Linked DNA regions of Homo sapiens: all the other regions are reported to be linked to region 1. Evidence: microRNA targets listed by miRTarBase, many of them from high-throughput screens and not tested one by one. Region 1 holds a microRNA gene; each other region holds the end of a gene's coding sequence.
The links. The annotated mature microRNA hsa-miR-224-5p reads UCAAGUCACUAGUGGUUCCGUUUAG and lies in region 1 at 2,854-2,878, opposite strand. An mRNA with a match to its seed (bases 2 to 7 or 8) in the 3' UTR can be bound and repressed. Matches are read on the target gene's strand: a 7mer-m8 pairs with bases 2 to 8, a 7mer-A1 pairs with bases 2 to 7 and ends in A, and an 8mer does both.

Region 1 (4,000 bases):
CACGGAAGAAGGGACATAGTTTTGAAAGGCAACATAGCCAAACCGCCTGCTCACATTGAAGAAAATCGTCATGACCATGAAGTCACCTGAAAGACACAAAAAACATCACTGCATTACAGTGCTGACACGACGGTCCCCCTTAGCAGGACGTGAACAGTAAGGGTCTCATTTTTCAGCTCACAGTATTCCCTAGGATAGAGGCATGATGTGACAATGCAATACATACAAATAGGACCAGAAGAAGCCCAGAAAAAAGACTTACTGCAAGACCAATGGCCAGTTGAGAGCTAAGCCAAGGCCAGAATCTTAATAGCTTCCTTCTCAGTTCACTGTCCTACACCCAATGTCTGTCTCTGCAGGTTGGCAAGAGAGTCAGGTGAAAGTGAAAAAATCAATTAGCCTTCTAGATATCATGCCCACGCAGCTGATATCCAGATGGCTGACTAAGGGCTTCATACCCTCTGAGGCACATCACACCTGCACTGCTGGCCCTCAGAATGTCTACTCTCAGCAAATGAGACTAGGGAAGTCTGTGCTGTGGTGGAGAAGCACAGAATGCTTTTGGCCTCCTTTCTGCACATTCATGTGATGGCAAAATGCCTTCGTGAGTGAGCACTGCTCCACAGGTGGTCAAAACCGGCACTAGCCTGCTCCCCAAAGTTTTGGTGGCTCCCTGTTTCACATGAGCTATACAGACTATCTGCACTCTGGAATCTGATGCTAAAGGCCCACCATGACCCGGCTCCCACTGACATTTTCCACACGCACCTTACCCAAAGCCAATCCCATCTGCTCACAGATTTCCTGAGATGGCCTGCAATTTTACACCAAGATTCTAACCCTGGACTCTTTGGTCTTAGTCTATGACCCCTAACCCAAACTGAGTGTTTCAGGGAAAGAGAAGAAAAAGCTTAAAATGAACATTTCAGTCAGCCCTCCAGAAGTCAGGTCTGTGGCATACACATCCACAGGGCAGACTGAGGTCCTCACAGTCACTTGGACATTGTGTCCTTGGTCATGGCTCTCAGCTAGACGGTCATGGCTCCTCCGGGACCTGATGACAACCTATATCTCTAGTTGGCATCTTCTTTTGTAGCATTCATGCTGCTTTATGCTCTGACACACCCTCCCCAAGCACTCTGCTGCTATCATGACTCCCAGGCTGGTGTGGGCTTTTCTCTGAGCCCAGGACATCATTTTCCACTTTCAGCATCACATTGCAGTTGCAATACTGTAAAATTCCTAGGCCTATAATTAGGTCGTCTTTTAAGTCCCTTCAAGGCAGGGCTCATGCAGGCCCTGTGGCTTAGCCCCTGCCCATCCAAGCTCAGAACAGCCTGGAACCCAGCAGACACTCAGCAACTCTTGCTCCTGTCAGGCAACAGCTTTGTAAAGCAGACCAGAACACTAACCTGTCCGTGTGTCCTCCTATTTTGGAAAGTGGATCAACTGCCCAGCAGGTCTGGGTGGGCTGGAGCTGAATGAGAAGAGCAGCCTTTCGTACTCACCTTGGCAGCACTGAAACTCAAGGAGCAAAGCTTCTCAGATTCTTCTGGAAGAAGGCAAGGGAGCGACCTGTTGTCAGTGGGAAACCTGTGTGTTGAGTATAGCTTTGGGATAGAACTCCTCCAGAGCTGCTGCACGGACCACCCTCGCACTTGCCTACTGGCCAGAATGTATTTATCAAAAGTCCTCTTGCCGTGGGATCTTGACTGCAATTTAAGACACTTCTAATTAGTTATACCCAGGCCCTGCAAAATTGCTGGGTTTATATAATATATTCTTGTTGCACGAAGATTTATTATTCTGTTGGATGATTCTATTTTAATTTTATTTATTCTGGCCAAAAAAGAACCTTCTCCGCTCGTCAAGAGATGCCAATTTGTCTTGAAGGACAAGAGAAAGATGCTAACACACACTTTCTTCTTCTTGAGGAGTGAGAGAAGCACGGGTAAGGAAAACAATATATCTGGGGCTGATGAACCAAAGCAAAAAAATATATGCTAAAGATGGTTTTCTGCTCAAACTCTTATCCTCTTTGACCAGATCATGGTTGGTCACTGCAGTGTCAGAGGGACACAATTAAATAGACCATGTCCAGAGGACTGGGACTAGAAGAATGAATGGACCCAAAGCTTTGAAGAATAAGGGAAGAAAAATAAACTAGGGCTATGTAGACTACAACAGACTATGATCCATGCCGGGAATGATGATGTTGATCGTTTAATCTCGGTCCTGTGAAACAGTGGCTGGACTAATGTAACCTGGACAGTTCCAAGGAAAAAGAACTAAGCTTAATGTGTGGAACTTCCAGAGACTCCAATTTCAGAAGAACAGGGAGAGTTTTTTGATGAACAGAACTGTCTAGAGAAGAAGGAAACCTCCTTGTAAGACAGTGAATTCCTGACCAGCAATAATATTCCATCAGAGGCTCCACAGCCATCAGTGAAGGGCAAGCCTCTCTCTGGAGGCAGGGCTGGACTCTCTTAGAAGCTCCTGAAGCAGAGATTCTCTGGATCAAGGTCCAAGATGGCCAGAGTAGCAGGCTACCACTGCATTCTGAACCCTTAATCGCCGAGCACGTAAGTATGCTCCAGATGGAGAGACCTGCCCCAGGGCCCAACTGGAAGAGTTTGAGACCAGTCCCAAAGATAACTCTGACATTGAAGGAACCACGTCTCCAGATCAACTAGTCTCCAGCAGAGGAGAAAGAAGACCTCTTTTCTCCTCAAGAATCCTCCTCACTCCCAAGGAGGTCTGGTGCTTACCTACTGTCATTGCTTTGATGATGATGCTGGCTCTGGGGCTTTGTAGTCACTAGGGCACCATTTTGAAACAATGCACAATCATCTACTAAACGGAACCACTAGTGACTTGAAAGCCCCTGGGCCTTATCTTCTCTGTCACTTTTGATGATGGGTCCCCACCTATCCGGGAAAAGCTGAGGTGCAGAAAACCAAGAGGCAGGCCCATGGTTAGCTGGCAGAAGAGCAAGGCTCCCAAGTCAAAGGTAGTAAAACCGCTTCCCCAGAGTCCCCAAGAAAAAGGGCAAGTATTTTTAAGGTAGCCCAGCCCTCTGCCCCTGCCTAATACTGTGCAAGCAAAGCTCTAGCCACATGAGCATGAGCTTTCCCTCATCCAGAGACTGACTCAATAAATGAAACAAAAGCAGATTTTCTGCCTAGTCACATGGTAGCAGAACAAGATGCCTCTCACGACAAATGGCTGGTTGGGTGACTGGCTCCATCCACATTCTGGAAACGATGAGGGCAGTGCCTTCACTGCCCTGAACTTGGTCAGGATGTGTGAAGAGTGTTTCCAGGGTTGCTCTGGGAGCTACCCTGGGGAGGTCCCTTGGCTCCTCATTCAGGTCACCTAGGAACATAAGTGAAGGTGCTCACATCTAATTGGGAGCTGAAGTGTAAGATACCCAGGACCTTCCCCTTTAGTCTTTGTCAGAGAAAAGGTCAGAAAACCAGTGGCCACTATGTCTATGTGGAATCCACCATGAAGCCTTTGATAAGAATCTGTGCTTTTCAGACTTGTTCCTTTAAGATAAATGTCAATGCAGCAGCCAGTGTAGCTGCTGTAACTTCCTCCAGACTTTCCCAGCCTTAAACTAGCTGACATTAGAACTCTAGCCTCCACCTCCCACTACAATGGACTTTGCTTCCCATTCAACCAGACTGGATTGGTTCTGGGTATGGAGAACTCACACGAGCTCCATTCCCCAAAGTCATCCAAAGAGGTCAGAGTTGTAACCTCGAAACTGAAGGGTCTGCATGAAAAAGCCAGCTGCACATTCCGACAGCAGCAGAACTTTATCTACTTACCTAACCTCTCAAGGAGCTTGGCAAAGCACTTACTTCTTTGCAGATGAGACTGAGACATAGTTACAAAGTCTCAGTTTCCTCTGCAAACAGTTGTAAGTGCTTAGCAATTATAAGACAGGAGCCATGTCTTACAATGTTTGCACGGGATGACTGCAAAGCATTTGTAT
Region 2 (4,000 bases), not on the chromosome of region 1:
CCAAGGGATTGGCCTCGTCGTCGGGGGGCCCATCTCCAGCCGGCAGCCCCCCGCAGCCCATGCAGTCCACGGCCGGCTTCATGAACGCCTTACACTCCATGACCCCCAGCTACGAGAGCCCGTCCCCACCCGCCTTCGGTAAAGCCCACCAGAATGCCTACGCGCTGCCCTCCAACTACCAGCCCCCTCTCAAAGGCTGCGGCGCCCCGCAGAAGTACCCTCCGACCCCGGCGCCCGAGTATGAGCCGCACGTCCTCCAAGCCAACGGGGGCGCCTACGGGACGCCCACCATGCAGGGCAGTCCGGTGTACGTGGGCGGGGGCGGCTACGCGGATCCGCTGCCGCCCCCTGCCGGCCCCTCCCTCTATGGCCTCAACCACCTTTCCCATCACCCTTCCGGGAACCTGGACTACAACGGGGCGCCCCCTATGGCGCCCAGCCAGCACCACGGACCCTGCGAACCCCACCCCACCTACACAGACCTCTCCTCTCACCACGCGCCTCCTCCTCAGGGTAGAATCCAAGAAGCGCCCAAATTAACACACCTGTGATGGGAAAGGGCGAACGAGGATTAGGGGATGGGGAGGAAGAGAGAGACTGTGGAGCTCTGGGGGGCAACCTGGAGGTCTGAAAAGAGGAGCCAGAGAAGGTGGTACCCAGGCTTCCTGGTCAGAACCGGCCTGGAGCTCCTTCCCTTCCCCCTGGCCTGAGAGGTTGCTTTTAAGTCTTCCACCCCTTGTTCCATCTGCCTGCCAACCCATCGGAAAGGAATCCACATCATATTGGAGATGACCCCATCAACCCCAGGGCTCCAGCACTACCAAGTTGGAATTCCACGCCCGGGAGTGGGGTAGAGGAAGACGAGACAGGACGAGGCAGAAAAGCACATTTTAAAAACCAGACAAGATGGCTAGGCCATCACCAACCAACGGACTTACCTTACATCTTTGTAGGTAATTCCCCCCAAATCTTGATTTTTTTTTTTCCTCAATTATCCTTTAAAAAATAAGAAAACACATTTCAAACCCAAAAGGCACAAAACACGTTCCCTTCCAACTTTCCCAAAACCTCAAATTTGTTCCCATTTGAGGTTTATTGAGGTACACTTCTAGCCCCCGGTTTTTCTGCTCTAGAACATTCATATCTATACATCCCACCCCCATCAATTACAGTTTTTAGAGGGCTCAGGGATGGTGAGAGATCCTGAAAGAGCTGCCTATATTATAAATTATATACATTTTTTTTTAAGGAAAAGTGTGGAGGCTAGGGCAGGCAGGTTGTTAGGACTGAAGGTTTGCCCATTCTGCTGCCTCCATCTCAGCTCCAGCTCCATCCCCCTCTCCACAGAAAGCAGTTGGTGACACGAGGTTCTATACTTTTCTTCTGTTGCTCTCTTGACTTAACGTGAAAACAGGGTATATTTGAACAAACTGTCCCAGGCAGGGGCTGGGCAGGGCCTGTGTGCCTTGCTCAGCCTCCTGACAGGACACTTTTGTTGCACTTAGAATTTACATTTTAATGGATGTAAAAACAACTGTGAGAGATGTCTGGGCCTGCAGAAGTCCAGCATTGCTCAAAAAAGCGTGTGTTCTAGTGAACATTTTCATATATATTTATTGGTTATAGCCTGTTAAAATATTTTCTTTTTTGTATTATTTATCCCCCTACATTATGTATTTATATGAGGGAAAAAAAGGAAAAAATTGTACTTTTTTAGTATTTACCTGTTACAAAGGACATTGTGTTTCCTGTCATGTAAAACCAGCTATTTTAGTTACTATTGTACTCTAGAAAAGAGCTGTAGATTTATGTTAAACTCGTACTTACGAACAATTGTAATTAGTTCTAAAAGGCATGAACTCAGCTCCTAATCGTCACTGTATAGTCCTGAATTTGTAGAACTAGAGTTAATTCCCTCTTGGAACTTTCTTTGTTCTTCAGTAGTTACTTTTTTCCTTACCTAAAAGGGTTGTCTGTCAAACAATTCTTGAATAAACTTTCTGTTATCAATTTTATCTTGTCCTGGTGGTCCAATTTAGATAGCAGAGCAAGGCTGCTGACTGCCAAATTTCCCCCAAGGGAAGAAGGACAAGGACAAGGACACTGAAGACCCTTCCCTGGCCTTTTTGTCCACTGCCCAGGTTCCTGTCTCCCCCTTGATATGTCTTAAGTTTAAATACCATTTTCTCACTCATAAGAGCCTGTAACATTTTGCCAACTTCTTCAGCTGTGGTTTAAGTAGCAAGTTGGGAGGTAACGGGGGACTCTTGGATGCTCTCTGTAGGTTTTTCTGTTTGGCCTGTATGCCTCTAGGTTTTTCATTCATTGACCTTTCGTCTGTTAGCTCCTTTGGCCACAGCGTCCATGCACCCCCCACCCCCCACCCCTTCCCACCACCACCAAGAAAATCTGGCCGATTACGGTTTCTTCCACGAAACCTAAACTTCACAATCCTCTTCCGGAGCCACAAAGAAGGTGTCACGTGACCCGAAGCCCAACCACCATTGGGTCTAAAATGAAAACAAAGAAAAATGATTAATCTAAAAAAAAAAAAAAAACAAAACTGAGGCCTAGACTTCTCAGGTCAAACTTTAAAACTAAGTAAAATTAAATCACTAAATAAAACTCGAGGCGGAGGGAGGGGAAGCACGTTCGATTTCCCCTGCCAGAGAAAGGGGAGAGGAGGGTGGGAGAAGCTGTTGGATCCAAGCGTAAATAAAACGGTCCCCAGGCTAATGTGCGGCTCTGTTTCCATCATCCTTGGGAAAACTTCATTTCTTAGTTGTGGTTCCATAAAAGTTTTATCACATTGGAGTGAAAATAGAGAAGGTCTGTCAAAGATGAAATGTCACCGCCGAGTCGCTGGAGCCGATAAGAGCGAGAAGACAGGGCGGCTGAAATATGGAGCTAATTCGTTGAAAGAGAAGCGATGGCTGCTTGCTGAAGAGCTGCATAATTCTAATTGTAAGCGATGTGCCCGCATTGCTTAATTAGGAGCATATATTTGGTGGTAGTGATGTTGGGGGAGTGAGAATCGTTCCAGGCCCTGCCTTAAAGAGAGGGCTGATTTTCATTTTTATGTTGCATCCTGGCAGTCCAAGGTTAGTAATTATAGTCTTTATGCAACAATAAATAACAATAAAAAAGCAACCTGAACTCTACGCCCTCCCCCTTCCCCACCACCAAGTAGGATTTTAACTGGACTCATCCAAGCAGCAAGCAATTTAGCATTGGGTCAGGCTATAATTTAAAGGCATAAGAGCGTGCAAAGTTTGATTGGGATCAAATAACGCTCAAGGGTTTTTCTTTCTTTCTCTTTCTCTCTTCTTCCTTGAATAACATTTTCTGAATGATATAACTAGATGAAGCACCATGTTTGGCTCTGGGGCTGGGTTGGGTTGTTATTTATCTAGCAGGAAAGAGGCCAAGAAAGAGAATTTAGCTTAAGTTTGAAAAACAGAGCTTTGGCTCGAAGCTGGAATTGCAAACAAGAAAAATAAGAACCAACTTGGCTTGGTGTTCCCTATCCTTCTCTTTGGAAGATTCCAGGCGCTCAGCTAAAGCAGCCAAAGACGTGGGTAAAATATCCGTGCTGTTAAATTCACAGCAGGACAGGGGGGCGGGGGAGGGATGTCTCTGAAAAGGAGGGTTCTCTGGGCCCCTTTTAACACCCAAGTTTTCCGCTGTTTGCTAATCTGGCCATAAAATCTGTCAGTGAGGGTTAGAGAGAGCTGTATTTCCTGCAGGGACAGTCTGCCCGAGTTGCCTGAGATAAGCTCTGGATCCTTCAGCCAGCTACAGAAGCTGTTGCTAAACTTTCAGAGGTGTTCAAGGGGGTGGCCAGAGGGAGAACCCACTCTCAGGCCTCCCTGCATGACTTCCAGACAGCTACTATTTGGATTATTCTATGCCCACCCCCATCCACACCTCTAAATGGCAAAAATTGTTTTCTTTGGAGCCTAGTTGCACACTACTGTCGCTGGCCACTTTGCCCAGGTCA
Region 3 (4,196 bases), not on the chromosome of region 1:
TGTCCCTGGGCAGGGGAGTGGCGGGGGGCGCTGCACCTGCTCCAGCCGCACGTGGCCCCTGCCCAGCAGCCTGTCCTGTGGGCTCAGAGAGCCCTGGTGGGGGGAGGCCAAGGGACTGGGGCATAGACCCCTGTCCCACCAGTCCCCAGAGCAGCCCCTTGAACACCCCCAGGGGCCTTTCCACCGGGGCAGGCAGGAGTTACTGGGCGGGTCGCCTGCATTGTCCAGGGTGGTGGAGGGGCAGGGGTGGCCGGTGGGAAGCAGCGCCCCTGCTGGAGCCCCTGGATGTCTCTGAGGCCTGGCTGCAGCAGGGGCACCGTGGGTGGGTGGGGGCCACTGTTCCTGCTCTGTAGGCTCTGTGCCCAGCCCTGGGGGCCTCTCCTCTCACCCTGGGCCTTCGCAGGGCAGCCATGCCAGAGGCCTGCCCTGGAAGGCTGTGGCTGTGGAGCTGAGTGGATAGAGGCCGGCAGAGGGCTGAGCAGAGGGAGCAGCGGTGGGTGCAGAGCCCCAGGTTGGAGGCCTGGGCCGTGACAGTAGTGCCCTGGGGCTACAGTGGGATTGGCACCGCAGCTCACCTGGGGAGGGAGGGGAGCTGCGGCCCGTCAGGCATGCAGTGGGCTGGGGGTCGAGCTGGGTGGGCCGTGGGCCTTACTCGCTCATCCCCTGGGAGTGACAAAGGGGCCCACGAGTCCCTTGCCCTGGGCCGGGCTGGGGCACAGCCTCACCCTCTGCCCTCCCCCAGGTCCCCAGCGGGACGCCCAGGCGGCGCGGGAGTTCATCCTGAAGATGTTCGTGGACCTGAACCCCGACAGCGACAAGATCATCTACTCACACTTCACGTGTGCCACCGACACGGAGAACATCCGCTTCGTGTTCGCGGCCGTGAAGGACACCATCCTGCAGCTCAACCTCAAGGAGTACAACCTGGTCTGAGCGCCCAGGCCCAGGGAGACGGGATGGAGACACGGGGCAGGACCTTCCTTCCACGGAGCCTGCGGCTGCCGGGCGGGTGGCGCTGCCGAGTCCGGGCCGGGGCCTCTGCCCGCGGGAGGAGATTTTTTTTTTTCATATTTTTAACAAATGGTTTTTATTTCACAGTTATCAGGGGATGTACATCTCTCCCTCCGTACACTTCGCGCACCTTCTCACCTTTTGTCAACGGCAAAGGCAGCCTTTTTCTGGCCTTGACTTATGGCTCGCTTTTTTCTAAAAAAAAAAAAAAAAGAAAGAAAGAAAAAAAGCAACGAAACATAAAACACACAAGCGCCCCGTGCCCCCAGTGACTCTGGGCCTCACAGAGCCCCCGCCAGCCAGCATGGGGCCCCGCCCTGCAGCCAGTCACGCGCCCCCACACCGCAGCCCCCCGTGGCTGTCCTTCCAACCCCACGTGCTTTTTCTTTCTCCTGCCCGCTTCTTTTCTTCATCACAAAAGGCGTGGAGACTCGGAGACGGACGTTTTTCCCCTTTTTTAAGTTATTGACGCCCAGCGCGCCTCGCCTCTTCACCCATCAACGCTGTGCTTTGCCCACTGGACTCCTGAAGAGGGGGTGGGGGGCTCCCTCGGTCGCCCACCCTGGGAAGTGCCTAACCTTTTATTTTATTTTATTTTTTTGAGGAAAAAGAACGCCTGACTCACAGGTTGAAGAAACACCCTGGGCCCTCTCTCATGGCCGGGTTCCCCGTCCCTCTGCAGAGGCTGGGAAGGGTCCCCGGGCTGGAGCCACGGGGGCTTCTCTGGGCTGTGCCTCCGGGGCCAACACTGGCTGCTTGGGGCTGCCCGGGGACTCCAGAGGGCTGCACGGCCACCCTGCCCTGGCTAGAGCGCACCCCACCGGAGCCCACGTGGGCTGGGCGGCTGGAGGGATGGTCCCCCGGTGACACTGGGAGAAAGGCCACTTGGATGGGGGCGTTTCTGTTTTGTTCCGCTTTGTGATGTCACCAATTTGGAAACAGCGAGGGTGGGTGGGGACTTTTACAGAATATTCTCAGGTGTGTACCCGAGAGGCAGAGAGAGGGACGTGGCCGGCAGCTCTGTGCGTGGCCTTGTCCCAAGCACTTGCGCCCGCCCCCGAGCGCCGCCCCCGGGGAGCGGGAAGCCAGCACTCGCACTTTGGCCAGGGGCGCGTGGAAGGTGGTGGCAGGCACCGGCCTGGGCAGCTTCCAGGCCTGGCTGGCCACGACCACGGCCCGAGGGGGAGCCCGCCAGGCCACGCCGCACTGAGCCACAGCCCCGGGGGCCGCCTCCCGGGGCCCCTTGAGGCACTGAGGCACCGAGACTGGTTCTCCCCGAGAGACTCGGAAGGTGGGGAACGAGGGGACTGTGTTTGGGGAGGTGGCTTTTTCGTCTGCTGTTGACTGAACACTACAGCGCCCTGTGGTTCCGGGCTTCGCACAGCTGTCCCAGGGATGGATCGCCTGTGCTGCCTTCGCCCGCCGCCACACCGGGACCCTGCACGGCTGCTTCTGGCCTCGACAGATGACAAAAGAAACAGCCCCAAAATACGACCACTCCAACCAGCAGTTCCCGCCTGCCTGCCCGCCACTGTCAGGCCTGCCCTGGCCTCCTCGTCCGCAGGGCTGTCTGCTGGCTTCTGGGGGCAGAAGAGCGGGGAGCCCCGTGGAAGGGTCAGGGGAGACCAGGTCAGGGCAGCTACATTTCTGGTGATCAGCCCCATGGGGAGACGGGGCTGGCGGGATACCCCCCCCCCGGCTTCCCCACACCACTTCTGTCTCACCCGGAAGCGTCCTTTTTTTGTGCCAGGTGTCTACCTAAGAGGGTTGGTGCCAGAAGCCCCCCATGGCGAGTGCTGGGGCCCGGCGGTGCCCTGGGGGAGCAGATGGGGCCACCCCTGGCAGGGCCGCTACAACCTTTTCCAGCAGCGGAGCCCTCTGGGGGGCCTGTGCTTGTGGCATCTCTGAGGGCCTAGATTGCACAAGGTGACCTGGCCGTGGCCTGAGGGTGGAGTCGCCCAGCACGCAGGCCGGGGCGCTGCGGGGCTAAGTATTAGGCCTTCCCAGGGAGGGGGCGTGCCAAGCATCCCAGAGCCGGGCTGGGACCGCCAAAACGTCGTGGCCTGGATCCTCTGGGTCTGAGTGCCTGATCCCCTGCCCCCCAAAAAAGCAGAGGTAGGTGTTGCAGGCCCAGGGCAGGGGTGCCTGCCCCAGGAGAGTCCCAGGCAGTGGTTCTCGTGCCAGTGGCACCCAGGGGCAAGGACAGCCAACCCCCACCCTTGCCACGTGTGGGGCCACGTGGGCATGTGGGGTGTGTGTTTTTACCTTGGTGAATCTCACCTGCCAACGATTTCTCGTGAGTGCCGACCACCTTCTCCGACCATGTTACGCCCGGGCGGCAGCAGCCCCCGGCCACTGCAAACCCATGCCCTGGGTCCCCCGGCTCCCCCAGGGAGGCATCCCCGTGCCAATGTCCCCCAGTGGTGGCAGCAGATCCTGTGGCCGGCCTGGCGGACGGGACCCAGTGATACTTGTATATTACACAGTCCTGATTTCAGACAATTTCAACCTTAATCTATTTAAAAAAGAATATTCTATACAAGCTGTTTTTAAGCCTTTTACCATTTGAAATGCATGTGTTGTGCGCGTTGGGGATGGGAGGAGGGGCTGAGGAGCGGCTCAGTGTCACCTCCCACAGCCACCGGCCCTGACCCTTAATCCAGACACCGATGGAAGTCGACTTTTCATATCTTTCTCCTGAAATGAACTCTGTTTTAAATTGGAATAAATTTTGTTCCTAAATGCTGGCGGCCCCCTTCTGGTTTATTTCCTGTTGTCCTTCAAAGGGGGCTGGGGGGAAGTGTGCAGAGGCCTGGCCCCCAGGAGCCCTGGAGTTACCTAGGGCATTGCCTGACCTCAGTGGGGCCGCCTGGGTGCCTCCGCACGGTGTCCCGGGGCCCCTCCCCTGTCATCTTGTTTGACCCTTCACTTCAAGTTCATTTCACTAGCACCAGGCCAGAGCAACCTGCTTGGGAAATGCCACCTTGTTTGGGGGCTGGGGACAAGGGAGTGAGACGGGGAGGAGCCCAGGTCCCAGGCCAGCCTGCCCCTCACCTTCCAGGGCACCTGTGGGGACATCATGCCCTCCGGGCCTCCGTTTCTGTAAGCTGCGGATGTGGGACCTCTGCAGCCTTCCTTCAGTTATTTTTTCCTTTTGAAAAAAAATTGTAAAATACAGATAAATT
Region 4 (4,196 bases), not on the chromosome of region 1:
TGGTGAAACCCCGTTTTTACTAAAAATACAAAAATTAGCCGGGCATGGTGGCGCATGCCTGTAGACCCAGCTACTTGGGAGGCTGAGGCAGGAGAATCGCTTGAACCTGGGAGGCAGATGTTGCAGTGAGCCAAAATCACACCATTGCACTCCAGCCTGTGTGACAAGAGTGAAACCCTGTCTCTAAAAAAAAAGAAAAAGAAAAAAAATACAAGTCCTTCCTTAGTTCCCACACCCCCACTCCCCAGATTTAACTGTTAAGCATTTGGCATTTATCCTTCCAGGCCTTTCTGGGTGGAAATGCAGCCTGCATGCACCAGTATGCAAAGCTTCCAGCTCTGCCCATCCCAGCTGGTGGTGTGGCAGCCCCACTCTGATCTATGGGGACTCCATCCTGACTGGTTGGTGCTTGCATCTCTCCTGCCTACATATAACTCACCATTTCACTTTCTCTTTCCATCAACAACATATCCTGTGCTTCTGCATCCTTCCATGACAGTGTGTATAAATGTACGTTGTTGGTGTTCACTGCTCCGTGGTGTGCCACAAGTCTGGGTGCATTGTCGTACCTTACATATTGCTAGACTTCTTGCCCCAGATGACAGGTGTGCCCTTCCTTTCACTAAAAGATGCTTTTGTCCCTTCTTCTTTAGAATCTGAAAGCGGCTGATACTGACCCCACAGCCCCGCCTTATGATTCTCTGCTCGTGTTTGACTATGAAGGAAGCGGTTCCGAAGCTGCTAGTCTGAGCTCCCTGAACTCCTCAGAGTCAGACAAAGACCAGGACTATGACTACTTGAACGAATGGGGCAATCGCTTCAAGAAGCTGGCTGACATGTACGGAGGCGGCGAGGACGACTAGGGGACTCGAGAGAGGCGGGCCCCAGACCCATGTGCTGGGAAATGCAGAAATCACGTTGCTGGTGGTTTTTCAGCTCCCTTCCCTTGAGATGAGTTTCTGGGGAAAAAAAAGAGACTGGTTAGTGATGCAGTTAGTATAGCTTTATACTCTCTCCACTTTATAGCTCTAATAAGTTTGTGTTAGAAAAGTTTCGACTTATTTCTTAAAGCTTTTTTTTTTTTCCCATCACTCTTTACATGGTGGTGATGTCCAAAAGATACCCAAATTTTAATATTCCAGAAGAACAACTTTAGCATCAGAAGGTTCACCCAGCACCTTGCAGATTTTCTTAAGGAATTTTGTCTCACTTTTAAAAAGAAGGGGAGAAGTCAGCTACTCTAGTTCTGTTGTTTTGTGTATATAATTTTTTAAAAAAAATTTGTGTGCTTCTGCTCATTACTACACTGGTGTGTCCCTCTGCCTTTTTTTTTTTTTTAAGACAGGGTCTCATTCTATCGGCCAGGCTGGAGTGCAGTGGTGCAATCACAGCTCACTGCAGCCTTGTCCTCCCAGGCTCAAGCTATCCTTGCACCTCAGCCTCCCAAGTAGCTGGGACCACAGGCATGCACCACTACGCATGACTAATTTTTTAAATATTTGAGACGGGGTCTCCCTGTGTTACCCAGGCTGGTCTCAAACTCCTGGGCTCAAGTGATCCTCCCATCTTGGCCTCCCAGAGTATTGGGATTACAGACATGAGCCACTGCACCTGCCCAGCTCCCCAACTCCCTGCCATTTTTTAAGAGACAGTTTCGCTCCATCGCCCAGGCCTGGGATGCAGTGATGTGATCATAGCTCACTGTAACCTCAAACTCTGGGGCTCAAGCAGTTCTCCCACCAGCCTCCTTTTTATTTTTTTGTACAGATGGGGTCTTGCTATGTTGCCCAAGCTGGTCTTAAACTCCTGGCCTCAAGCAATCCTTCTGCCTTGGCCCCCCAAAGTGCTGGGATTGTGGGCATGAGCTGCTGTGCCCAGCCTCCATGTTTTAATATCAACTCTCACTCCTGAATTCAGTTGCTTTGCCCAAGATAGGAGTTCTCTGATGCAGAAATTATTGGGCTCTTTTAGGGTAAGAAGTTTGTGTCTTTGTCTGGCCACATCTTGACTAGGTATTGTCTACTCTGAAGACCTTTAATGGCTTCCCTCTTTCATCTCCTGAGTATGTAACTTGCAATGGGCAGCTATCCAGTGACTTGTTCTGAGTAAGTGTGTTCATTAATGTTTATTTAGCTCTGAAGCAAGAGTGATATACTCCAGGACTTAGAATAGTGCCTAAAGTGCTGCAGCCAAAGACAGAGCGGAACTATGAAAAGTGGGCTTGGAGATGGCAGGAGAGCTTGTCATTGAGCCTGGCAATTTAGCAAACTGATGCTGAGGATGATTGAGGTGGGTCTACCTCATCTCTGAAAATTCTGGAAGGAATGGAGGAGTCTCAACATGTGTTTCTGACACAAGATCCGTGGTTTGTACTCAAAGCCCAGAATCCCCAAGTGCCTGCTTTTGATGATGTCTACAGAAAATGCTGGCTGAGCTGAACACATTTGCCCAATTCCAGGTGTGCACAGAAAACCGAGAATATTCAAAATTCCAAATTTTTTTCTTAGGAGCAAGAAGAAAATGTGGCCCTAAAGGGGGTTAGTTGAGGGGTAGGGGGTAGTGAGGATCTTGATTTGGATCTCTTTTTATTTAAATGTGAATTTCAACTTTTGACAATCAAAGAAAAGACTTTTGTTGAAATAGCTTTACTGTTTCTCAAGTGTTTTGGAGAAAAAAATCAACCCTGCAATCACTTTTTGGAATTGTCTTGATTTTTCGGCAGTTCAAGCTATATCGAATATAGTTCTGTGTAGAGAATGTCACTGTAGTTTTGAGTGTATACATGTGTGGGTGCTGATAATTGTGTATTTTCTTTGGGGGTGGAAAAGGAAAACAATTCAAGCTGAGAAAAGTATTCTCAAAGATGCATTTTTATAAATTTTATTAAACAATTTTGTTAAACCATTGTCAAATTTGTTTTATTTGATTCCACCACATTTCCAGTCAAGAGAAAAGATGCATGGAGATGGCCTCAGTCAAAACGTGGAGAAAGAGGCCGGGCGCGGTGGCTCATGCCTGTAATCTCAGCACTTCGGGAGGCCGAGGCAGGTAGATCACTTGAGCTCAGGAGTTTGAGACCAGCCTGGGCAACGTAGTGAAACCCTGTCTCCACAAAAACACAAAAATTAGCTGGGCGTGGTGGCGCGCGCCTGTAGTCCCAGCTACTCGAGAGGCTGAGACATGAGAATCACTTGAACTCAGGAGGCAGAGGTTGCAGTGAGCCGAGGTTGCGCCACTGCACTTCAGCCTAGGTGACAGAGGAGACTCCATCTCAAAAAAATAAAAAAATTTTTAAAAAACTTCATGCTGAAGTGACTTCTCCAGAAGTTTCTATCATTCTACTGGATGAACATGGGAGAAACTACATTCACATGGTAACTTTATTTGAACAGTATCCATCCATGTGGCATGTGATGAAACCAATAAAATTCCCATGTCCACGGGAGACTGTGTGGGCCAAGCTGAAGGACGGGACAGAGCAAAGTTTCAAACGATGTTCTCGGGGTCAGCAAGTGAGTACAGGCCAGTGGTTCTCTGCTGGGGAAGAATGTAGCCCCCTCCTCCATGTGACATTTTGCAATTTCTGGAGTACCTGGGGAGGTGGTCTTGTCACCACATCAAGGCCAGGGGTGCTGCTAAACATCCCTGCACGGGACAGTTCCTCACAACAAAGAATTATCCAGCACAAAATGTCAGCCACTGTTAAGAAACCCTGGTGTAAGCCTAAAACTTTTCTCTGTTGAAGGGGTATGACTTTTTTCTTTGGGTAATTTTTTATTGTAAAATACAACATAAAATTTATGATTTTAGCCCTTTTGTTAAGTTTTCAGACAGGGTCTCACTCTGTCACCCGGGCTGGAGTGCAGTGGCACAATCACGGCTCGCTGCAGCCTCAATCTCCCAGTCACAAATGATCCTCCTCTCTCAGCCTCCCTAGTAGCTGGGACTACAGGTGTTGCACCACTACGCCCAGCTAATTTTAAAAATTGTTTTGTAGAGACAGGGATCTTGCTATGATGCACAGGCTGGTCTTGAACTCCTGGGCTCAAGTGATCTGCCCTCCTTGGCCTCCCAAAGTACTGGGATTACAGGAGTGAGCCACCACGTTGGCCTCATTGTAGCCATTTTTAAGTATACAGTTCAATGACATTAAGTATATTCAAATTGTGTTGCAACCATCACCACTATCTTCAGAA
Region 5 (4,196 bases), not on the chromosome of region 1:
CTTTTGAAGGCCACAAACCACTGTAATGTCTAAGATTTTCTGCCCCACAAGAGCTCATTTGTGTCCCTTTGGAGATATCTTCCCCATTGAAAATGTATGCTAGAGTACTTTCTCTCAATTCTACGCCAGTGAAATAAATCAGGTCGACTCTACTGGCTTAAGTTATTGGTTGTCCCAGACAAGTAAGAAAGTTATAATCCCCACCTTTTTTTTCTACTTTATGTAGTCCTGCTTCAAATTATTTTTATACAGAAAGGAATTCACCCTCTTTTCTTCCTAGATTAACAAAATTAAGAAGTTTGTCATTTTGTTTCATTTTATTTTTAATTGAGAGGCCCGTAGGAGTGATGCACTGATTAAAACTTGCTTTCCATTAGCCAGGTAGGATTTTGATGCCCACTTGCTTTCCCAGATGTTGATGTTGGTAGCGATACTTCCAGAATAAATATTAAACTATCTAAGAAATGTTAATATTTGCTATTATTCTCATTAAAATCCAGTTCAGATCTATTTCTCTGTTACTTTGACAGTGCCATATTGGTGCTGCCAAGCCTTCACATATGATCATCCCGCCTTTAAACTCTCTCCCCTGAACTTGGGTGGACCACACATCCCTGTGTGTGCTGCTGCTTCATTGAGACAATGGTTGTGATCTCTCTCCATGCCTCATTCCTTCCCCTTCTCTCTCCCATCCCTCCTTCTCCTAACCACACAGCACAACATGCCCTTCTGGAGGATATCCAGTCACTCAGACCTCCTGGCTCTCCACCAAGCACTGGAATTAGAGTATTTGTAACTGTGTTCTTTAGCCGGAGATCCATTTTTTATATTTCAAGTACACTGAATTTTTATGTGTGATTCAATGCCTCTGGCTCTACACATATAAATTGTCTTAATGGATGAAATCATATTTGGAATAAAAATTCCAGAATGAAGAATTCAGATTGCTGAATGGAGTTAAACTTTAGTGCTACAGAAAAGAAACTCTATGGTCTTATATTTACAACACTTTAATGGGTTTTTTAAAAATCTGTGGAGGTTGCTGGTACACACCAAATGAGTCCAAACTGGAATGAGCAGCTTTAGCAAAGAACTCTTACCCTGGCAAAGCAGCAACACACATGCTCCGTCTGACAAGGTGGTCAACAACATTCCTCAAAATGGGAGATCTTCTCAGCCCTGAGGTTTGAATCTGACTTTAGCCTACCTAACCCAGAAAATCTGAATTGGAATGCACTCAGACTGTATAAGGACAGTCCTATTTAGACATGTAATTTGTGTAAATTATTGATGAAAATAATTTACTGTGACTTTATTAGCAGCTGACTTTCAAAGTGGATGCAATTTTTCTTTCTTTTGTTGGGGAGGGGAATGGGAGGGGAAATGGGAATATAATATTGTCTCTTTTTTAAGTTTGGCAAACAGAATGTTCATACTGATGTGTTGTGCCTTAAAGACAAGACAGCATTTGTGTGTTACAATGTAACTTTGGTTAAAATCTCTGTAGATAATGAAAAAAAACAAAAAAAAAAACCTTTGTGATGATTCTTAACATGACCAAATTTAAAAGTCAAGCTCTCAGAGCTTAATTACCGCATCAGCAAGAAACTGAGTATTTTTTGCAATAAGAAAACAACAATAATAAAGGAAAGCTTGTGTTTCATTTGGGTTCTTAATAATTCCAATAATTGTATGAGGCAACTATTTGCGCATCCAACCATGAGTGGAAGGTTTGGGAAAGACTGTGGGACCTTTACTTAGAAAGTGAAATGTATGTAGAAGTCTCAAGTACCCCTTCTACAGTTTTACTGGAGAAAACTAAGAGCCATATTCATGACAACTTGCACAGTTTTGAGGTTGAGACTTTTGATATGTGTAAGTTGCATAGAGGAGGATATTATCATGCAAATCATGAGCAATTATCACATAAACTTTTTTAGAATGTGCCATGAACATGGCATAAAATTCACATTGAGTGCACAGGGCTTAAAATAAAGCTAAGTATGTTTATTCCCAATGCCATGGCAAAAATGATAATATCATCAGAAATGGAAGGCAGTTCTCCCAGATGGTGTCTAATGAAAGCAATGAGTCTATGAAAATTTTACCTAGAATATCATCATAAATTAAATTAGCAAGTGCGCTGGATCTTGGCAGCGCTGCTGAAATGACAACAGTAAAATAATACCTGGTTCTCCATCTGAATACATCAATGCAGGTTCTCCTCGTAACAGACTTGCATATGTTTGTTAGTTTCTGCCTGTATTGTCACTGCGCAACGGATGGCATTCATTACAAGAAGAGCCCATCATCGTTGTGTTTGCATGGTTTTTTTCCTTGTGTGTAGCCCATGTTGGGAACACGATACAGGTTCTCCTCTTATTTCCTATGACACGATTTCCCTTGTGGAAATTTAAGACTTTAAGAACTAGAGTATTTTTATGGTGTCTGCACCTGCAGTTCTGTGTTTAAAATGTCATAATGTGGATCCTGGAGTCAGGCTACTAGTCAGTGCCCCTAGCCAGAGGCTGGTTCATGAGTTCATCAACTGAGGCCTCTGTGGCTTCAATAAAGTCTACATTTTGCTCACAGATCACAACATTCACTGTGGAAATATGATTTCATTTCTTTAGGCTACAAACCTGTATTTCTTTACTGAATGCTAAGGCCATGTTTATATTGGGTAGAAAGATATTGAGATCCCAATTTTGTACAAGATTGTGATTTCATTATCTAAACCTTAAACTTAATCCTTTAAATTTTGTAGCTTTTGGCTGCATCTGCCCCAAGTACTATTCCAGGCAAATTAAAGTTGGAATACCTTTAATAATATAAAAATAATGATAGTAAATCTTATACTTCTGTTGGCCCTTAGCTTGAAAATAGCAGTTAAAAAAATTTAAATGTTGCCTTGATTATCAGTACTTAATTATGTTGTGCACTAAAACCTTAAATATTTATTACTGTGAATAAAAACAAATTATCTTTACTGTATAGCTGGTTTCTTTAAATGTTGATAGAATTGTGGCATTACATCTAAATTTGTAAGTCTTTTCATATCAAACAAGCAAGGCTTTTTATGCTGCTAAGTCTGTGGGTGCAGAAAGAAACACCCCTTGGAAGGGCAAAGAGAAGCCGGCTGGTTGCATCACCCCGTGCAGTTTCTCACACACATCTCTTTTTCTGATTCTGTGTTCAGAAGAGGCTGCCGGCATAAAACCTAAATGCAAGGTTGACGGAGAACAGCTTGTCTGGCACAACAATGGTGCAGGCCCACGAGCCAGCATCACAGCTTGGCCATGGGACGTTGAGTATGCACAAACTAGAACTCTTCCCTTCCCACCTTAGGAATAGAAAATCCTCTTCCTTTCTAATCTGAAAAACGAAAACTGAACAAACACAAAACCAACCCCTTGGCAGTTCCCACCTCCTATTGACATATGGAATATTGTGCCTTATTGTAAACCAGTTTGAAAAATGTTCTGTAACTAAAGTGGGTTTTCGGCTATTATGTATACAGCTTGGTATATTACTACGAAAGATAACCACCTTGTGTTGCACCTTAAAAATATCAAGACCATGTAATTTCCATAACAAAATAGGTGGCCTGGCTATGGTATTATAGCATACAATTAGGACACTATGCCCCTGCAAAATTTTGTAAATCAAATTCAGAGGCAAAAACATATTTTAGAATCATACAGTTTGCACACGACAAGTAGGTAATAACTGTCTCTAAAAATGTTTTCTCCTTAGTCCGCAATGAGCTAAGATTCAGAATAGTGTCAACAGCATGCTCCTATATGAAGTTGTTTTTTTTAAAGCACATTTGTTTATGACAAGCCTACATTCTCAGTGAATATGGCATTTAGTATTTCTTTTGAAAACAAACTTAAGCATCATGAGCCAAAGTTGCACTTTGACTCCCAACTACGGTAGCATTATGGACATCTCACAATGTCAAGGGTTTCTGTTATGTATTAGTAAAGTATAGATTATTGGGGCCTACATAATTTAAAAGAAATGTAAATTAATATTAAAAGCTTGTAAAAATATGTATATCTTTACTATTTCTCAATAAATACCTTTGCAATTGTTTTCATTTCCTTCACCCTCCCATGTTGTAGAGTTTTTGTGTGTTTATTTAGCTTGGTTCTAAATCATGTGAAATTTGTATTTAGGTTTCTGGTCTTCAT

Region 2: miRTarBase lists HOXB3 as a target of hsa-miR-224-5p. The part of its 3' UTR that is shown has no 7-base or 8-base seed match.
Region 3: the mRNA of GNA11 is a reported target of hsa-miR-224-5p. The part of its 3' UTR that is shown has no 7-base or 8-base seed match.
Region 4: the mRNA of CDH1 is a reported target of hsa-miR-224-5p. Seed matches in the 3' UTR shown: 7mer-m8 at 2,093-2,099.
Region 5: the mRNA of EYA4 is a reported target of hsa-miR-224-5p. The part of its 3' UTR that is shown has no 7-base or 8-base seed match.

The regions. Positions count from the first base shown.
Region 1 is chrX:151,955,775-151,959,774 of GRCh38, forward strand. MIR224 (microRNA 224) reads right to left here and starts at 2,884; the gene lies at 2,804-2,884. It overlaps GABRE (gamma-aminobutyric acid type A receptor subunit epsilon), which reads right to left. Exons shown (of 9, transcript NM_004961.4): 7 at 1-86. It overlaps MIR452 (microRNA 452), which reads right to left and starts at 3,938; the gene lies at 3,854-3,938.
Region 2 is chr17:48,546,885-48,550,884 of GRCh38, reverse strand. It overlaps HOXB3 (homeobox B3), which reads left to right. Exons shown (of 5, transcript NM_001384749.1): 5 at 1-2,015. The coding sequence ends at 551. HOXB-AS1 (HOXB cluster antisense RNA 1) reads right to left here. Exons shown (of 7, transcript NR_102279.1): 4 at 2,422-2,510; 5 at 939-996; 6 at 483-545. Among named protein-coding and RNA genes, the nearest start is that of HOXB2, 3.8 kb to the right of the region's middle.
Region 3 is chr19:3,120,247-3,124,442 of GRCh38, forward strand. GNA11 (G protein subunit alpha 11) reads left to right here. Exons shown (of 7, transcript NM_002067.5): 7 at 743-3,753. The coding sequence ends at 933. LOC124904615 (a long non-coding RNA gene) reads right to left here. Exons shown (of 3, transcript XR_007067092.1): 3 at 4,066-4,162. Among named protein-coding and RNA genes, the nearest start is that of GNA15, 14 kb to the right of the region's middle.
Region 4 is chr16:68,832,637-68,836,832 of GRCh38, forward strand. It overlaps CDH1 (cadherin 1), which reads left to right. Exons shown (of 16, transcript NM_004360.5): 16 at 654-2,901. The coding sequence ends at 863. Among named protein-coding and RNA genes, the nearest start is that of TANGO6, 8.8 kb to the right of the region's middle.
Region 5 is chr6:133,528,010-133,532,205 of GRCh38, forward strand. EYA4 (EYA transcriptional coactivator and phosphatase 4) reads left to right here. Exons shown (of 20, transcript NM_004100.5): 20 at 716-4,119. The coding sequence ends at 796. The region is part of intron 6 of TARID (TCF21 antisense RNA inducing promoter demethylation); the gene reads right to left. Among named protein-coding and RNA genes, the nearest start is that of EYA4-AS2, 74 kb to the left of the region's middle.